2 separate regions of the Homo sapiens genome follow, and region 1 is linked to region 2. The links come from fine-mapping of genetic effects on gene expression. A gene starts in region 2. The other region holds a variant in brackets. All regions are shown on one strand. Distances are from middle to middle. Region 1 overlaps ZFYVE21 (zinc finger FYVE-type containing 21). Region 2 holds the start of COA8 (cytochrome c oxidase assembly factor 8).

Region 1 (8,327 bases), 160 kb before region 2:
ACGAAGTCACCGTGAACACGCTCACCCTCAGCACCAAAGGCACGGAACTCCCAAACCTCAGCTGGGAAGGCCTGGCCTGGCCGCCTCCTGCTCACTCCAGATGGCAGGGGGACCCTGACGCCGGCACGAGCGCAGCACGAGGACGCCGCCATCGCCGCCGGCTCCCCCGCTCTAACAGCAGGGACTTCAGTCCAAGGGGAAGACATTCAGACCTGGCTCTGAAGGAAATCTGTGTCACCATGCATTCTTTTAACAGAGTGAGGGACACTTTTGCCACGAAAATGGTCCCCGGATTTGGTAAGCCGGTACAGCCTTTTTCAAAGCTGGCCCTCGGTGCTGCCCACCCGCTCCCCAGCAGGCCCTTCAGCAGCGCATTGGGGGCTGCGGGACCCAGGACGCCTCGCCTCCCTCAGCTTCATGAGAACAAGACCCTCGTGCTCTGGGGTCCTTGGTAAGGATGAAACAAGGTGTGACAAGCACACCCCGCTTTGGTCCTCGCTGTCAGAGACCTCGGTGGCGGGTGGTGAACCAGAAACAGGTGTGGGTTCAATGAACCAGCGACGGAACGGTGGGAGTCAAAGGGGTCCTCTTGGGAGAGATGGAGGGTCTTTTGGCTTCTGATGATTAAGGGCTCGGCTGAATATTGACCAAGAATCATCCATGTTCTAAGCACAATAATCCTCAAAAGAGATGTAAGAGAAGACCTTCGCTCCACGAAGAGCCCCCTTTTCCCTTCTGGGGGAAGGAGGGGGCCCCCAAACGAGACCAGGAATTACCTGGCGAGCATAAACTGAGGGCCTGAAGTCTCGAAAAGGAGGCAGACTGGAGGTGGCCACAGCATTACCAAGCCACACAAGAGCTCAGACGTCTTATCTAACGCGAGAGCCGCCTCAGAGCTCCACCAAGGACAGACGGGCTGTGCTGGCACCGACAAGCAGCTGACAGGGCTCGGCCCCTCCGTGGGAAAGCTGCTCCCACACGCATGGCACCGTTCCAGCCCAACCCTGGGCCGGCGAACACTGCTGGGGCTGATTCCACAAGGAGGCAGGCAAGGCCTGTGGGGTCACCGGGGCCGAGCACCTTCTGGAACACAGGCCCCTGGGTCTGAGCTGGGGTGGGGACCGCGCGGCCGCCCAATCCCCCAGCGCCTCTGACATGGCTGCACAGCCTCCCTGTGGTCTGGGGGCCCAGCCACGGATCCTCCATCACCCCACCCTGATCCTCTCCCTCATAGGCATGGGGACTCTTCCCTGCCCTGCACCCCTTCTCTGGGAAGTCCAACCCCTTCTCTGAGCCCCAGAAGACGCTGGTGTGGAGGAGCTGCTCTGATGCGGTGCCATCACAGCCGCCACCCTCACCATGTCCCCGCCACCCTCAGCGTGTCCCTGCCACCCTGCAATCTGCAAAGGCAGGGGCCTCCCTCCAGCCTGCGGGACCCACACAGGCAGCACAGGAAGCCTGCAGCCCCTCCACAGGGGGCTCGGAGACAGTCCACATCAGGTGCCAAGTGCCCACTGTGCTTAGTTGGCAAAACAGAGTCTGGTGGTCCTGGGACTCTGCAGATGCTTCTGGAAGGAGTCCTATGGGGCCCACAGCCACGTGTACCCTCACTGTAGGAGGACAGAGGTCCCGGTTGTGGCGCACATCAGGGGCCCTTCAGACGCCATTCTGCAGCAAGGACTGGCCCGTCGCGACCCACACGAGGGCCTCATCCCTGCCGAGTTCCATGTCGCCACTGCCCCAACTCAGGCAGGCAGGTCCTGAGCTTTGTGAGATCCCACGACCAGCCTTTTTTTGTTTCCCTTTGCTTTTAAGCTGCTTCCTGGACTTGGAAACCAGGCCTGGCCCACCCCAGCCTTCTGGAAGCATCTAAAAAGTCCAGCTGGCAGCTCTGCCAGGGGCTCCCTGCCCACGGGCTGTGGGCGTTGGCTGGCTGTTCCCCGCCCTGATTGTGCTTCAGCCCAGCCCTGCCATTGCCCTCAAATGGGCCTGTCGGTTCTGGAATGTTCTGCCTGCTGTGCGGTGGCACAGTCCCTGCCTCTGTGTGGTGGCCCCTTCCCTGACCCCAGACATCCACTAGCCACAGAATCCACTAGAATCTGCTAGAGAAAGCTTCACGGGGGTTTTAACTCTGAGCTTAAGCAAACACGAGGCCACGTTATCACCAGGTTCCAGTGAGAGTAACTATTGATGGTCTCTCCATGGTGACCCTGGCCCACAGCGCCCGACAGGAGGGGAGAGGGCTCTCAATATTCTCAGCAGACGGTGGTGAAAGAGGACTGCTTTTCACATTTACTGTGCAGTTTGTGTTTGGGCAAGCTGAAAGGCCAATTTCTAAATATAACACCACACTGCTGGAGCAGTGGCTCACGCCTGTAATCCCAGCACTTTGGGAGGCTGAGGCAGGAGGATCACTTGAGCCCAAGAGTTTAAGACTAGCCTGGGCAACACAGCAAGACCCTGTCTCTACGAACATTTTTTTTTTTTTGAGACGGAGTCTGTCGCCCAGGCTGGAGTGCAGTGGCACAATCTCGGCTCACTGCAAGCTCCGCCTCCCGGGTTCACGTCATTCTCCCGCCTCAGCCTCCCAAGTAGCTGGAACTACAGGTGCCCGCCACCACGCCCAGCTAATTTTTTGTATTTTTAGTAGAGACGGGGTTTCACTGTGTTAGCCAGGATGATCTCGATCTCCTGACCTTGTGATCTGCCTGCATCGGCCTCCCAAAGTGCTGGGATTACAGGCGTGAGCCACCGTGCCCGGCCTGAACATTTTTTTTAATGAGCCAGGCATGGTGGTGCACACCTGTAGTCCCAGCTACTTGGGAGGCAGAGCTGGGAGGACAGCTTGAGCCCAGGAGGTCGAGGCTGCAGTGAGCCATGTTCATGCCATTGCACTCCAGCCTGGGAAGCAGAGTGAGACCCTGTCTCAAAAAAAAAAAAAAAAAAAAAGAGACAGACCACACCTAGGATTTGCCCCCTTAAAAATATAAGTGATCCAGAAGTTTATTACTATAAAATAACCAAGGAGCTTAGATGTATAGGCTTTTAAATAAGGTAATTTCCTATTGATTATATTAGTGAAAGAAATTTAAAAAATTATCAACAGAGCAATTTAATATGAAATAAAGCAATGGATGAAGACATAAGGTAAAACTACTGCCAAATACCTACCCCGCCAGTAAGCACGCCCCGCAAAGGAAGCGCAGGACAGCAAGCCGGGCCCCAGACCAGGCTCCCACCAGCGCCTCCTTTAACTGGACCCCGCAGCTCTGATGCTCAGTGGAACAGCTATTTTAGGAGCTAGGGAGAATACACCAAAGCCCAGAAACCAAGTGTGATTCATCCGTTTTCACCGTAGGTGGCCAGCGGTGTCTGGAATGCCAGCCTCTGCGTCACATCCCAGGTACACATGTGTCACCACCAGCGTGGGCTGGAGCAGACTTTCAAACCAGCACATTCGCTGGGGAAACTAAAACCTCCAAGAACAACCCAATGAAACAGGCCTCAAGACGTTTAGTGAGGAAAATGAATAAATAAATAATAAAGGTGTTTAGTGAGGGCCACGAGGCCAGAGGTGCAGGCTGTGACAAACACACAGAGATGAAGAGGGAGAGTGAGGCAAGGTCAGCTTGGGCAGTGCCCCTAATAACACCCATCTGCTGCCTGACCCTCTTGCCCAAGCCAAGCAGATAAACCCGCTAATGACAGACACTGCCCCCTAGGATGGACGGCGGGGCCCAAGTGCTCTCCAGGAGCCCTCTGTGCCCTGTGCAGTGGCGTCACAGAGGCAGCCTCGGCCCAGGCCTCTCTGGGGCGCCTGGCACTCACCTCCATGGGAGGCCTCCGTGGCCACCTTGCAGGGCCAATCACAGGCTCGGCGGGAAGCTATATGGACACAGAAGGAGCTGTCTCAAGGGAAGCGGGGCCAAGAGGGAGCGAGGATCAGGGCAGGTGCATGCAGACGGCTCCCAGTGAAATTTCGGAACACACTTCTCCTGGCTGCCTACAGGAGTCAGAGCCCTGGGCGCTTGTCCCCTCCTTGCTAGTCCAGTAAACCACAACTGACTTGCACCCACCCTGCCAGATGACATGCTCGGAGGCGGTCAAGGCAGATGCCATAAACTAGGCTTCCCGGTGGGTAAGCAAGATGGCCGCGAGCAATGAAAGAAGAAACCAGGTCAGGCGTGGTGGCCACACCTGTAATCCCAGCACTTCGGGAGGCTGAGGTGGGTGGACTGCTGGAGCTCAGGAGTTTCAGACCAGCCTGAGCAACATAGCACAACCCTGTCCCTACAAAATAAAACCTAAAAATTAGCTGGGCGTGGTGGCGGGTACCTATGGTCCCAGCTACTCGGGAGGCTGAGGCAGGAGAATGGCTTGAACCCGGGAGGTGAAGGCTGAAGTGAGCCGAGATCGCGCCACTGCACTCCAGCCTGGGTGACAGTGAGACTCCGTCTCAAACAAAACAAAAAACAGAAATCATGAAGCCCATCACTCCTCCACAGTGCGGCAGACACCAGCATGGAGCTCCTTAGAGACCTGCAGGTCGAGACCCGCTCCCCCACTCCAATGCAACAGGAACGGCCCCTCGAGGGTCACAGGGCAGCTCCTCAGAACCAGCACCCGGCCCACCCCAAAGAGTGGGGTTTGGCAGCACGCAAGAAACCAAAAGCGCCTCCATATAATCTGAAAGTATAGTTTAGGGAGTTTAAATGGATGTTCAAAAAAAGTTATAAAAAGAACCAAGTCTCAGGACACAGGCTGGACATGGACATAGGCCTGCCCTCCCTTTGAGGCTGGGGTGACAAAAAACATCAGGCCCCACCACGCACTCTGAGCTCCCACACTACAGTGAGAAGCGTCACCCACTGGCTGGTGGGGCTCCCACAGTCAACTAATTCTCAGCCCCCCAAGAACTCGCCAATCAAAAAACAATTTAAATGCATGTATCAATGCACCTTTATTGAAAGATAATCACGTTTAACTGGTAGAGCGTAACTCCTACAAACAGAAAAGGAACCCACGTCAAAGATTTACCTCATTAGTTAATGAGAGAACCAATAAGACTAAAAACCCAGTTCAAAGGAGAATCCAAAGAGCAGACATGGATACAGGCCGTGAGGAAGGAAGA[T/C]ATGAGTTGTAAACTGGCTCCTCTCACAGGGACCCCGCGGTGGGGTGTGTGAGAGAGGACATCAACTTCACCTCTGAGAGACAAAATCTACTTGCATCTCAGGGACTAGAAACACGTGCGTTACTATCAGTTTTCTACAATTTGAAGCTGTCAGACAGTTTGAAGACGGTGACAGGTGCAGACACTATGATCACAGCCTGGGAGGGTTATGCTACAGGCGGCCTGGCCTCCCACAGGACGCCCAGGAATCCTTTTTTGTGGCTTCAAAGTCTCAGTTTTACCTAACATCAGTAACAGCTCTCCAGCCTGGGTGACACAGCAACACCTTGTCTCAAAAAAGAAAAAGCTCTTAGCCAGCCACAGGGACCCTTGAGGAGCTCGCTGGTGTCCCTGGCAGTATCTCATGAGGCTGCTGGTTCCCAGAACACCTGTGGAGGCTCTGGCAGCCCCTGGCACCTCACAGGGGTGAGCTTTACCCAAGCGCTGAGATCCTGGAAACAATTATGAAACCCCCCACCCTGCAGTGTGCTGGGAAAGCCTTCCACCGAGAACCACCCTCCCCATACGAGCCAGAGGAGATCACAGATGCCCCCCTTGCTTACCTGCAGCAAGGCCCTCCAAATTCCCATTCTCTGCCTCAGAAAACACTGGCCATTTCTCCTCATGATCAACTGGAACACAATTCCCTTACCTGGACTTTTTTTTTTTTTTTTTTGAGACAGAGTCTTGCTCTGTCACCCAGGCTGAAGTGCAGTGGCACAATCTTGGCTCATTGCAACCTCCTCTTCCCGGTTCAAGTGATTCTCCTGCCTCAGCCTCCTGAGCTGGGATACAGGCACACACCACCACGCCCGACTAATTTTTGAATTTTTATTATTTATTTATTTATTTTGAGACGGAGTCTCGCTTGGTCGCCCAGGCTGGAGTGCAGCTGCACGATCTCAGCTCACTGCAACCTCCACTTCCTGGGTTCAAGTGATTCTCCTGTCTCAGCCTCCCAAGTAGCTGGAATTACAGGCACTCATCACCACGCCCAGCTAATTTTTGTATTCTGGCCTCAGCTCTCTGATCTGCTGGAGGTCCTGACCCTCCACTGGCCCATCCCACCTCCCCAGCTTGATTCTTTCTAGCCTTGGCCACTCCTCCCTGCAAAAGAAAAGCCCTGTCCGGCCTGGCCTGTGAGACCCTCGCAGAACTCAGGGTCCCCTGTTCTCCCCGCTGCACAGCTCCAGACGCCTCTAGCAACAGTCCTCACTTCAGATCTCTCCTCATCCGAGTCCAGGCTCGTGATCAGACGCGCACGTGCTCTCTCCTTCCTGGCTCTGAATCTAGAGTATCCATCAAAGTGTCAACCCGCCAGCATGGAGCTGCGGTCATTCTTCTGCCAGCACCACGGATGGGAGGTGGGAGGGGTGCACAGCGGCAAGGATTTTAAGGATAAAACTCAGGATCTCAGCTGCTTGTGACAAGCCCAGATGGCTGCACGCCCGGACCGCCCACCCCCAAGCCCACTGCCTTGCGTCAGTGTCGGATATTTGATGGCAGAGTCAGACAAGCCCCAGAGATCATCTGAAGCTTCCTTCACACCCCCAAAGCACCTCTATCCAAAGTGGTGTCGCACGAAGCTTTACACGCCGCCTCTGCCTCCCCTGCCCCACAGGTTCCTGAGGAGGCACAGACTGGAGAAACGATTCTCAACTGGTTCTGCGTCAGAGCCTTGAGAATCTGAGAGCTGCAGGCCACCTCTCGGAGAAAGGTGCATGTGTGCACATGCTCCCCAGGGGGTTTTGCAGCATTTTAAAGGGATAACCCTCATGGGCCCAAACTGATAAACCAGCCCGGTCAGGCAGCTGGTATTCGGGAGACGGGCACTGGGCTGGATTCAGACTCCCCTGGCTAAGAACAGAGCTGGAATGAAAATGGACCAACACGTTTACAGATATGACGATGATGCCGATCGGCACACGGCCACCAAGCCAAGGACAATGTTACCCACCTGCCAAGTTCTACCAAATTCTCCTCTCCCCATTCCAAACCACCTCAAATAAACCTATTTCCCACAACTGGTTATCTGCACATTTGAGTCACCTCCCGACAATCACCTTAGCGGCCCCAAGCACGCAGCCAGCACAGTGTAGCTCAGTGTCCCCTTCAGCATCACCACATGCCAGGCGACTGTTACCGTACATGTCCCCTCGAGCTATTGCACCTAAAGCTGGACTTTATTCCAAATCTTCCAGCCCTTACTGCCCCGTTCTAAGTTCCTCCAGAACACTGTCTTTGGTCGTTTCTGGCCTGTAAGACCATGCTCCAATACAATTCACAACGCAAAACTCAGAGACAAAGTCCATCTTATTAGAATGGTTTCTCTGTCCCCCAAGCCCACCCAATGCTAGGACCTCCCTCAGCTGCTCAGATCCCAGTTAATCATCCAAACATGGTGGGGGGCTCTGGAGGGGTATCCTGCCACCACGCCAGCGTGGGAATGAATCTTCTCTTCCACGAGGGGTGCCACCTTGACTCAAGTGTTTCAACTCCACTCAGTCGGAAGTCACCGCGGGACTGCCACACAGTGCCTCAGCAGAGGCCACAAAGAAAGGCAGGGAAAAATGCTAAACAATTCAGCTGATACCAGAAGGGCTCTGGAAGAGAGAATGAAGGAGGGGAACACAGTGGTTCACTATAAAACAGAACCGTAAGATCAGTGCATGTGTACAGCAGGGAGAAAGAAATTGTGCTTTGGTGGAAACCTCTGCCTCATCTTGGCCACACTTTCTCACGTGCTCCTTACGGTTCATACAGACGTAGAGTATTTCTGTGCTATTAAGAGTTCGTTACACCATAAATACAATTTTCACGTGTCAACTTAAAAGTAAATTTTAAAAAAGATGAAGGAGGATGATTGGCGGAAAGTGTCTAAAAAGACTCCTCATGGTGGCGATACTGGGGAGAGGTGGGCAGCACTGGTCTCAACTCTCCAGGACACGCTCAGTGACCGGTGATGGCTCCGTACACTGTAGATGCCAGAGACACTTCCCCAGAGTCACTCGAATTCCGTCCTGTCCCCGAGGCTCTGTGGCCGCTCACCCCCCACCAGGCCTCCAACCAAGCTTCAATGAACCCAGTCAATTAGTGCTACTTTGACTTCTTGAACCTAGTTCCAACGTCTGCTTAGTTCTATCACTGAGGGAATTAA
Region 2 (8,327 bases):
TCATTGGCTACAATACTGCCGCTGTGCAAAGCTACAAAAAAAAATTTTTTTTTTTTTTTTTTTTTGAGAAAGAGTCTCGCATTGTTGCCCAGGCTGGAGTGCAGTGGCGCGATCTTGGCTCACTGCAGCCTCCGCCTACCAGGTTCAAGCAATTCTCCTGCCTCAGCCTCCCGAGTAGCTGGGATTACAGGCATGCGCCACCACGCCCGGCTAATTTTTGTATTTTCAGTAGAGACGGTGTTTCACCACGTTGGCCAGGCTGGTCTTGAATTCCTGACCTCAGATGATCCACCTGCCTCGGCCTTCCAACGTGCTGAGATTACAGGCACGAGCCACCGCGCCCTGCCAAAAAAATTTTAAAAATCAGCCAGGTGCGGTGGCACATGCCTGTAGCCCCAGCTACTAAAGAGGCTGAGGCAGGAAGATTACTTGAGCCAGTGAGGTTGAGGCTGTGGTGAGCTATGTTTGTGCCACTGCACTCCAGCCTGGGCAACAGAGCAAGACCCTATGTCCAAAAAAGGGAAAAATATGGTTATTTGTGGACTTGTTCCAACCCTCCTCCTCTCAGAAGTTAGGTGCCCAACAGGCAGGCCCAGGGTGGTGCTCCCTTGCATCCTCAGGAGACCCTGCCTGGAGCTGCAAACAATAAACTTCTGATAGATTCCAAAGATGGACATGGTGGATTCAGCCATTCTCCATAAGCATCAACCTGCCTGCCCCTGCACCACCATGCAAAGGCCAAGCACTGCTCTAGGCACCAGGGAGGCATGTGTTAGCATGCAGAGCTCCTGCCTGGAGAGCCATCTGTGCATGTGTGAAAAGAGGCACACACATTCATTTCTGTATCTCTGGCACCTCATGAAGAACCTGTGCAGGAAATGCCAACCACCCTGAGACAAATGTTTCCATTGGTGTTTTAAGCACCACAATACAGGACACGGTTTTCAAAAATACATGAGACTTTATCAGATGTCTTGTTTAAATCAATATGCAATGGCTCACTCTTTTTTTTCTTTTTGAGAATGAGTCTTGGTCCATCGCCCAGGCTGGAGTGCAATGGCGCGATCTCGGCTCACTGCAACCTCTGCCTCCTGGGTTCAAGCGATTCTCCCGCCTCAGCCTCCCAACTAGCTGGGATTACAGGTACCACCATCATGCCCGGCTAATTTTTGTATTTTTGTAGAGACAGGATTTCACCATGTTGGCCGGGCTGGTCTTGAACTCCTGACCTCAGGTGATCTGCCTGCCTCAGTCTCCCAAAGTGCTGGCAAGGTGTGAGCCACCATGCCTGGCCGGATCACTCTTATTTACCAGTTTAGTAACTCTAACCAGAAAGAAGATGGGGTTAAACTCTAACCAAAAAGAAGATGGGGTTAAAATGGCTTGTTCTTATGAAAACTCAGGTTCAAATGACTTGTAGGTTCTACCAGTCACAGAAAAATTCAAACCTTAGTAAACAATCCACGGAAACAGGAAAAGAAGGCATACCCTACAGCTCATTTTTGAAGCTAAAAGTGACTTTGGGCCAGGCACAGTGGCTCATACCTGTAATCCCAGCACTTTGGGAGGCTGAGGTGAGCAGATCACCTGAGGTCAGGAGTTCAAGACCACCCTGGCCAACATGGTGAAACCCGTCTCTACAAAAAATACAAAAATTAGCCGGGCATGGTGGTAGGCACCTGTAATCCCAGCTACTCAGGAGGCTGAGGCAGGAGAATTGCTTGAACCCGGGCGGTGGAGGTTGCAGTGAGCTGAGATCACGCCACTGCACTCCAGCCTGGGTGACAGAGCAAGACTCCATCTCAAAAAAAAAAAAAAATTAAAAAAAAAGGTGGGGAGGTGATGGAGGCAGAACCTATGGATTAAAAAGAACTAAAAGGGAGTATCTCTGAACCTATTCTGGTTCAGGAACTTCCGGATTAAAGAAAAAAAAAGAACTAAAAGAGTCAGACTAATTCTTACGTGCAAACAAGTTTAGGAACCAATGATGCAAACTACATAGGTAAGACATAAGCAGGCATGAAGTGGCTAGGGAACAGAATTTAAAAGTCTTAATTTTTTTTTCTTTACCAAAAGCAGTTATATTTCTGAAAAGCTGAGTTTTAAAGATGGATTTGGAAGGAAGAATGGTGCCTGACTCTTAAGTTCTATAATATTTTTCAATTAAAAGCTGGTGCTGGCTGGGCATGGTGGCTCACACTTATAATCTCAGCACTTTGGGAGGCCAAGGCGGGTGGATCACCTGAAGTCAGGAGTTCGAGACCTGCCTGGCCAGCATAGTGAAACCCCATCTCTACTAAAAAAAGAAAAAAAAATTAACCAGGCGTGGCAGCATGCGCCTGTGATCCCAGCTATACTCAGGAGGCTGCGGCAGGAGAATTGCTTGAACCCAGTAGGCAAAGGTTGCAGTGAGCCGAGACTGCGCCATTGCACTCCAGCCTGGGCAACAGAGCAAAAACTCCATCTCGAAAAAAGAAAAAACGAACAAGGCAGAGAGGTCTCTCATCTTGAGAACAGACCCATGGTAAGATTTATTTTACTTTAACAAGAAGTCTAAGGCTGAGAGTGGTGGCTCACACTTGTAATCCTAGCACTTTGGGAGGCCCAGGCAGGCGCATCACTTGAGGTCAGGAGTTTGAAACCAGCCTGGCCAACAGGTGAAACCCTGTCTCTACTAAAAATACAAAAAAATTAGCCGGGCATGGTGGTGGGCCCCTGTAGTCCCAGCTACTCGGAAGGCTGAGGCACGAGAATCGCTTGAGCCCGGGAGGCAGAGGTTGCAGTGAGCTGAGATCACGCCACTGTACTCCCACCTGGGCGACAGAGGGAGACTCCAACTCAAAAAAAAAAAAAAAAAAAAAAAAAAGAAGTGTATATGACAATAGAGAAATCCTTATTTGGGTGCTGTTGTTTCTTTCCAGCACAAGTTCACAAAATAAGCTAGGGAAAATCCCCCCCGCCCGGGAAATGTCTTGGTTGATTTCCCGTTTGCTCTCTTAGAGCATTTTCAGACACCTGCTCTATCTTTCTGCCCAAAGATAGAGATGCTGGGTGGGTTTCTATGTTCTAGGGATAGAAGGCAAGGACTTGGTCACTGTAACACAGAACTGAGCTAGCCACTTGGGTGTCTGGTTGGCAAGTTGCCCTGGTAACTCCTTGTTTAAATTGTAAACTAGATAGACCTTCAAAGCTACAATTATGAAAGTGTACTAACAGCCACAGCCCAACAGAAATGAAAATGTACAAGCAAGTACATTTGCAATTTTTAATTAGCTTTTTTTTTTTTGAGATGAAGTCTCCCTCTGTCGCCAGGCTGGAGTGCAGTGGCGCGATCTCGACTCACAGCAACCTCCGTCTCCCGGGTTCAAGCGATTTTCCTGCCTCATCCTCCCGAGTAGCTGGGTCTACAGGCGCGCGCCACTATGCCCAGCTAATTTCTGTATTTTTAGCAGAGACGTTTCACCATGTTGGGCAGGATGGTCTCACCTCTTGATTTCGTGATCCGCTTGCCTCGGCCTCCCAAAGTGCTGGGATTACAAGCGTGAGCCACGGAGCCCGTCCAATTTTTAATTAACACTTTTTTAATACTTCTTTAATTATTGTTTAAACCAAGTTTTCCAGCCTCCTTCATTAGCCTGTTTGGTATTTGCATGCTTTGCTTGAATATTTTATCTCCAGCCCATTCCACACCGTTAGTCAACATTTTCATCTGACAGACGGAATCAAGGCCTAGGCCTCCCTTAAACAAAACATCCCTCCCAAAAGTACCACTTATAAAAATTGCTTGCCACAGACATTCTTGCTACAGACATTCTTTGCGGATCTTTGGCCAGTAACATGCATATACCCACACATAGTTTGCAAATAACAACTATTCAACGTGAAGTGCTACAAAAGTACGATGATAAAGTGCTCGCCGCTTGAAGAAAAGCACTAATAATTGTAACAAAGCCAAAACACACACACACACAACGAAAAAAAACGCACGGTAAGCCAAGAGCTCTTTAAAAATAAAAAATAATCATTCTCGGGAACAAATAAGGTAGGTACAAACTTGCCAGGTGACTCTGTTACGCTTAAAGGTTCTGGCTGTCAACAGTCCCCGGCGTGGTGGCGGCGGCACCCTCAGTCCCATCCGACTGAGGGCGTTGATGCGGGAGCCTCGGGGCTGCGGGACTGTTCGGGATAGGACGCGAGAGCACCTGGACAAAGGCCTGAGGCGGCTGTGCAGAACAGGGAGTGGCCCCGAGGCCCGGGTTTGTCTTCCCTTCCGGTCACCCCTCCCGGCCCAATGTCCCCAGGCCCCTGCTTACCCCGCTGGGCGCCGTATCCCTGCGCTCGGCGCCGCGCTCCGGAGCGAGTTGACAGCCGCGGCAGGCGAAGGCGCGGCAGAGAGGGGGGAGAAAGGTCTTCTTCCCCGCCCGCAAGACCACCATGGCCCCACGCCCCCTGGCTCCCGCGGCGCACGGCAGCATTGCGACGGCGCGAGGGGCCGCTTTACGGCAGGGTCGCGAAGCCCGAGGAAGCGCGGCGGCGCGGCCGACCGTGCGCTTTCCCAGCGGTGCGACGGGGTGAGGGGGCGGCGGGCGGCGCGGGCTGACCCGGGCGGCCGCTCCTTGGTCGCGGTCACTCCAGGCTGCCTCGCTGCGCCGCTGGCGGTGGGCGTGGCGCTGCCGGCGGCTAGGCGCGGACGCCGGAGGAGGTGTCCCCGGGTTTAGGGGTGTTCGGCCAGGGGCGGGGCTGCCGGGCCCGGGCGACTGCCGGAGCTGCGGAAGTCGTGGAAGCGTCGGCGACGCATCGCGCGATGGCGCGGGCGGGACAGGTGAGCGAAGCGCGGCTTGTAGCCTTTTCCCTCTCTCGGGGGGACGAGTGGGGCACCACCTCCGCGCGGGGCTCCCCGCTGGGCCACCCCTTCGCCAGCGCCCAGCCCCGTGCGGCCTGTCGGATCAGGCAGGGCAGAGTCGGTCTCGGCGCTGTCCCCGCCCCTGGGGTCGGAAGCGACCGGGGCTGGCCGGGCCTGGTCTCTGGTGTCTCCGGCCGGGCCTCGGTTCCCCTCCTCCCCCGGCTTCCCCCGGCCGGGCCGAGCTCCCCTCGCGCGCCCATTGTGAGGTCACGTCCTGCAGGCGCGCCCTGGCACCCGGGCCAAGACGCCCGGAGCGGCTGCTGCAGCCAGTAGCGGCCCCTTCACCGGCTGCCCCGCTCAGACCTAGTCGGGAGGGGTGCGAGGCATGCAGCTGGGGGCCCAGCTCCGGTGCCGCACCCCGTAAAGGGCTGATCTTCCACCTCGCCACCTCAGCCACGGGACGCCAAGACCGCATCCAATTCAGACTTCTTTTGGGTAAAGGGCCAAGAGGGAAGGGCGAGGCGGGGAGGAAGCAGCTCGGGCCGCCTTCCCTCCGTGGCCTCCAGGACATCCGCCGGGGATAGATTATGCGTTTCCATTGGTTACCCACCTTGAGCGAGCCGTTTGATAGAAACCAAGAGCTTGAAACGTGCATTAGGCCATTGTGGACTCCCAGTGGGAGGCGAGTGAATGAATTATTCATAGTTACCACGTTTTCGCGGGTTGTTTTTTTTTGAGAGAGTGGAGCATGTTGGGGGCTGAGGAGGTGTTGGGCCTCGAAAGCCCAAGGTGGTGCCCTTCAGCGCTGTCCCGGTCGCTCTTCTTTACCTGTGGGGTTTTAATCTCTTCAGGGAGACTTCTGTGAGGGAAGATGTGTGAGGAGCTAAAAGGGTGGGGAGGGGAAGTGCACAAAGGGATGGAGAGAAACGAAGAAGCGGGGACCTTGGGGATGTCTGAGAGCCACTGGTTTTTGTTCTGGTTCTTTCTTTTGCTTAGAGTTTCTGGAAACTAGGCATAGCTGTGTGGCGGGGCGGGGTACTGTTAGTGTTCGGAAGGTTACAAGAGCTACTGTTTCACCTTTCATAAAGGTGCCCTGCTGGTTCCAAATAGTTTGTGTCGCGTACGGTGACTCACACCTTAATCCCAGCACTTTGGGAGGCGGAGGCGGGCGGATCGTCTGAGACCAGCCTGGGCAATATAGTGAGACCTGTCTCTACTAAAAATAACATTAGCTGGGCGTAGTGGTGTACGACTGTAGACCCAGCTACTGGGGAGGCTGAGGTGGGATGACTGCTCAGAAGTATACCTTTTTAAAATGAGAATTTTAGAATGACTTAATATACCATTAGTGTTCTGCAGAAGCCTTGTGCTGTAGTAAGTTATCATTCTTGTCGTCTTTTAGTGCTTGTGAAACTGAACACAACAAAAGTATGGATATGGGAAACCAACATCCTTCTATTAGTAGGCTTCAGGAAATCCAAAAGGAAGTAAAAAGTGTAGAACAGCAAGTTATCGGCTTCAGTGGTCTGTCAGATGACAAGAATTACAAGAAACTGGAGAGGATTCTAACAAAACAGCTTTTTGAAATAGACTCTGTAGATACTGAAGGAAAAGGAGATATTCAGCAAGCTAGGAAGCGGGCAGCACAGGAGACAGAACGTCTTCTCAAAGAGTTGGAGCAGAATGCAAACCACCCACACCGGATTGAAATACAGAACATTTTTGAGGAAGCCCAGTCCCTCGTGAGAGAGAAAATTGTGCCATTTTATAATGGAGGCAACTGCGTAACTGATGAGTTTGAAGAAGGCATCCAAGATATCATTCTGAGGCTGACACATGTTAAAACTGGAGGAAAAATCTCCTTGCGGAAAGCAAGGTATCACACTTTAACCAAAATCTGTGCGGTGCAAGAGATAATCGAAGACTGCATGAAAAAGCAGCCTTCCCTGCCGCTTTCCGAGGATGCACATCCTTCCGTTGCCAAAATCAACTTCGTGATGTGTGAGGTGAACAAGGCCCGAGGGGTCCTGATTGCACTTCTGATGGGTGTGAACAACAATGAGACCTGCAGGCACTTATCCTGTGTGCTCTCGGGGCTGATCGCTGACCTGGATGCTCTAGATGTGTGCGGCCGGACAGAAATCAGAAATTATCGGAGGGAGGTAGTAGAAGATATCAACAAATTATTGAAATATCTGGATTTGGAAGAGGAAGCAGACACAACTAAAGCATTTGACCTGAGACAGAATCATTCCATTTTAAAAATAGAAAAGGTCCTCAAGAGAATGAGAGAAATAAAAAATGAACTTCTCCAAGCACAAAACCCTTCTGAATTGTACCTGAGCTCCAAAACAGAATTGCAGGGTTTAATTGGACAGTTGGATGAGGTAAGTCTTGAAAAAAACCCCTGCATCCGGGAAGCCAGGAGAAGAGCAGTGATCGAGGTGCAAACTCTGATCACATATATTGACTTGAAGGAGGCCCTTGAGAAAAGAAAGCTGTTTGCTTGTGAGGAGCACCCATCCCATAAAGCCGTCTGGAACGTCCTTGGAAACTTGTCTGAGATCCAGGGAGAAGTTCTTTCATTTGATGGAAATCGAACCGATAAGAACTACATCCGGCTGGAAGAGCTGCTCACCAAGCAGCTGCTAGCCCTGGATGCTGTTGATCCGCAGGGAGAAGAGAAGTGTAAGGCTGCCAGGAAACAAGCTGTGAGGCTTGCGCAGAATATTCTCAGCTATCTCGACCTGAAATCTGATGAATGGGAGTACTGAAATACCAGAGATCTCACTTTTGATACTGTTTTGCACTTCATATGTGCTTCTATGTATAGAGAGCTTTCAGTTCATTGATTTATACGTGCATATTTCAGTCTCAGTATTTATGATTGAAGCAAATTCTATTCAGTATCTGCTGCTTTTGATGTTGCAAGACAAATATCATTACAGCACGTTAACTTTTCCATTCGGATCATTATCTGTATGATGTGGTGTGGTTTGTTTGGTTTGTCCTTTTTTTTGCGTTTTTAATCAGAAAACAAAATAGAGGCAGCTTTTGTAGATTTTAAATGGGTTGTGCAAGCATTAAAATGCAGGTCTTTCAGAATCTAGAACTAGGCATAACCTTACATAATACTAGGAAAATTATGAGAAAGGGGAAATTTTTGGTTAAATAAGAGTAAGGTTCAAACACAAGCAGTACATGTTCTGTTTCATTATGCTCGATAGAAGGCTTTTTTTTCACTTATAAGGCCTGATTGGTCCTACCCAGCTTAACGGGGTGGGGTTTTTTTGTTTGTTCAGACAGTCTGTTCTTTTGTAAACATTTTTAGTTGGAAAAACAGCATCTGCATTTTCCCCATCCTCTACGTTTTAGAGAGGAATCTTGTTTTTGTGTGCAACATAAGAAAATTATGAAAACTAATAGCCAAAAAACCTTTGAGATTGCATTAAAGAGAAGGGATAAAGGACCAGCAATAATACCT

Evidence for each region. PIP is the estimated chance that this variant, and not a neighbour inherited with it, causes the effect.
Region 1: its variant is fine-mapped to the expression of COA8 in whole blood (TOPMed, PIP 0.97).

The regions. Positions count from the first base shown.
Region 1 is chr14:103,716,974-103,725,300 of GRCh38, reverse strand. All of the region lies in intron 1 of ZFYVE21 (zinc finger FYVE-type containing 21), which reads right to left. Among named protein-coding and RNA genes, the nearest start is that of ZFYVE21, 5.3 kb to the right of the region's middle. RefSeq lists enhancers at 3,499-3,999, 6,617-7,127. The variant T/C (reference allele first, on the strand shown) is at 5,132.
Region 2 is chr14:103,559,111-103,567,437 of GRCh38, reverse strand. COA8 (cytochrome c oxidase assembly factor 8) reads right to left here and starts at 4,478. Exons shown (of 5, transcript NM_001370595.2): 1 at 4,314-4,478. The coding sequence starts at 4,436. BAG5 (BAG cochaperone 5) reads left to right here and starts at 4,781. Exons shown (of 2, transcript NM_001015048.3): 1 at 4,781-4,822; 2 at 6,246-8,327. The coding sequence starts at 6,274. The coding sequence ends at 7,617. It also overlaps the pseudogene RNU4-68P. RefSeq lists a silencer at 4,524-5,173 and enhancers at 5,514-5,563, 5,663-6,176.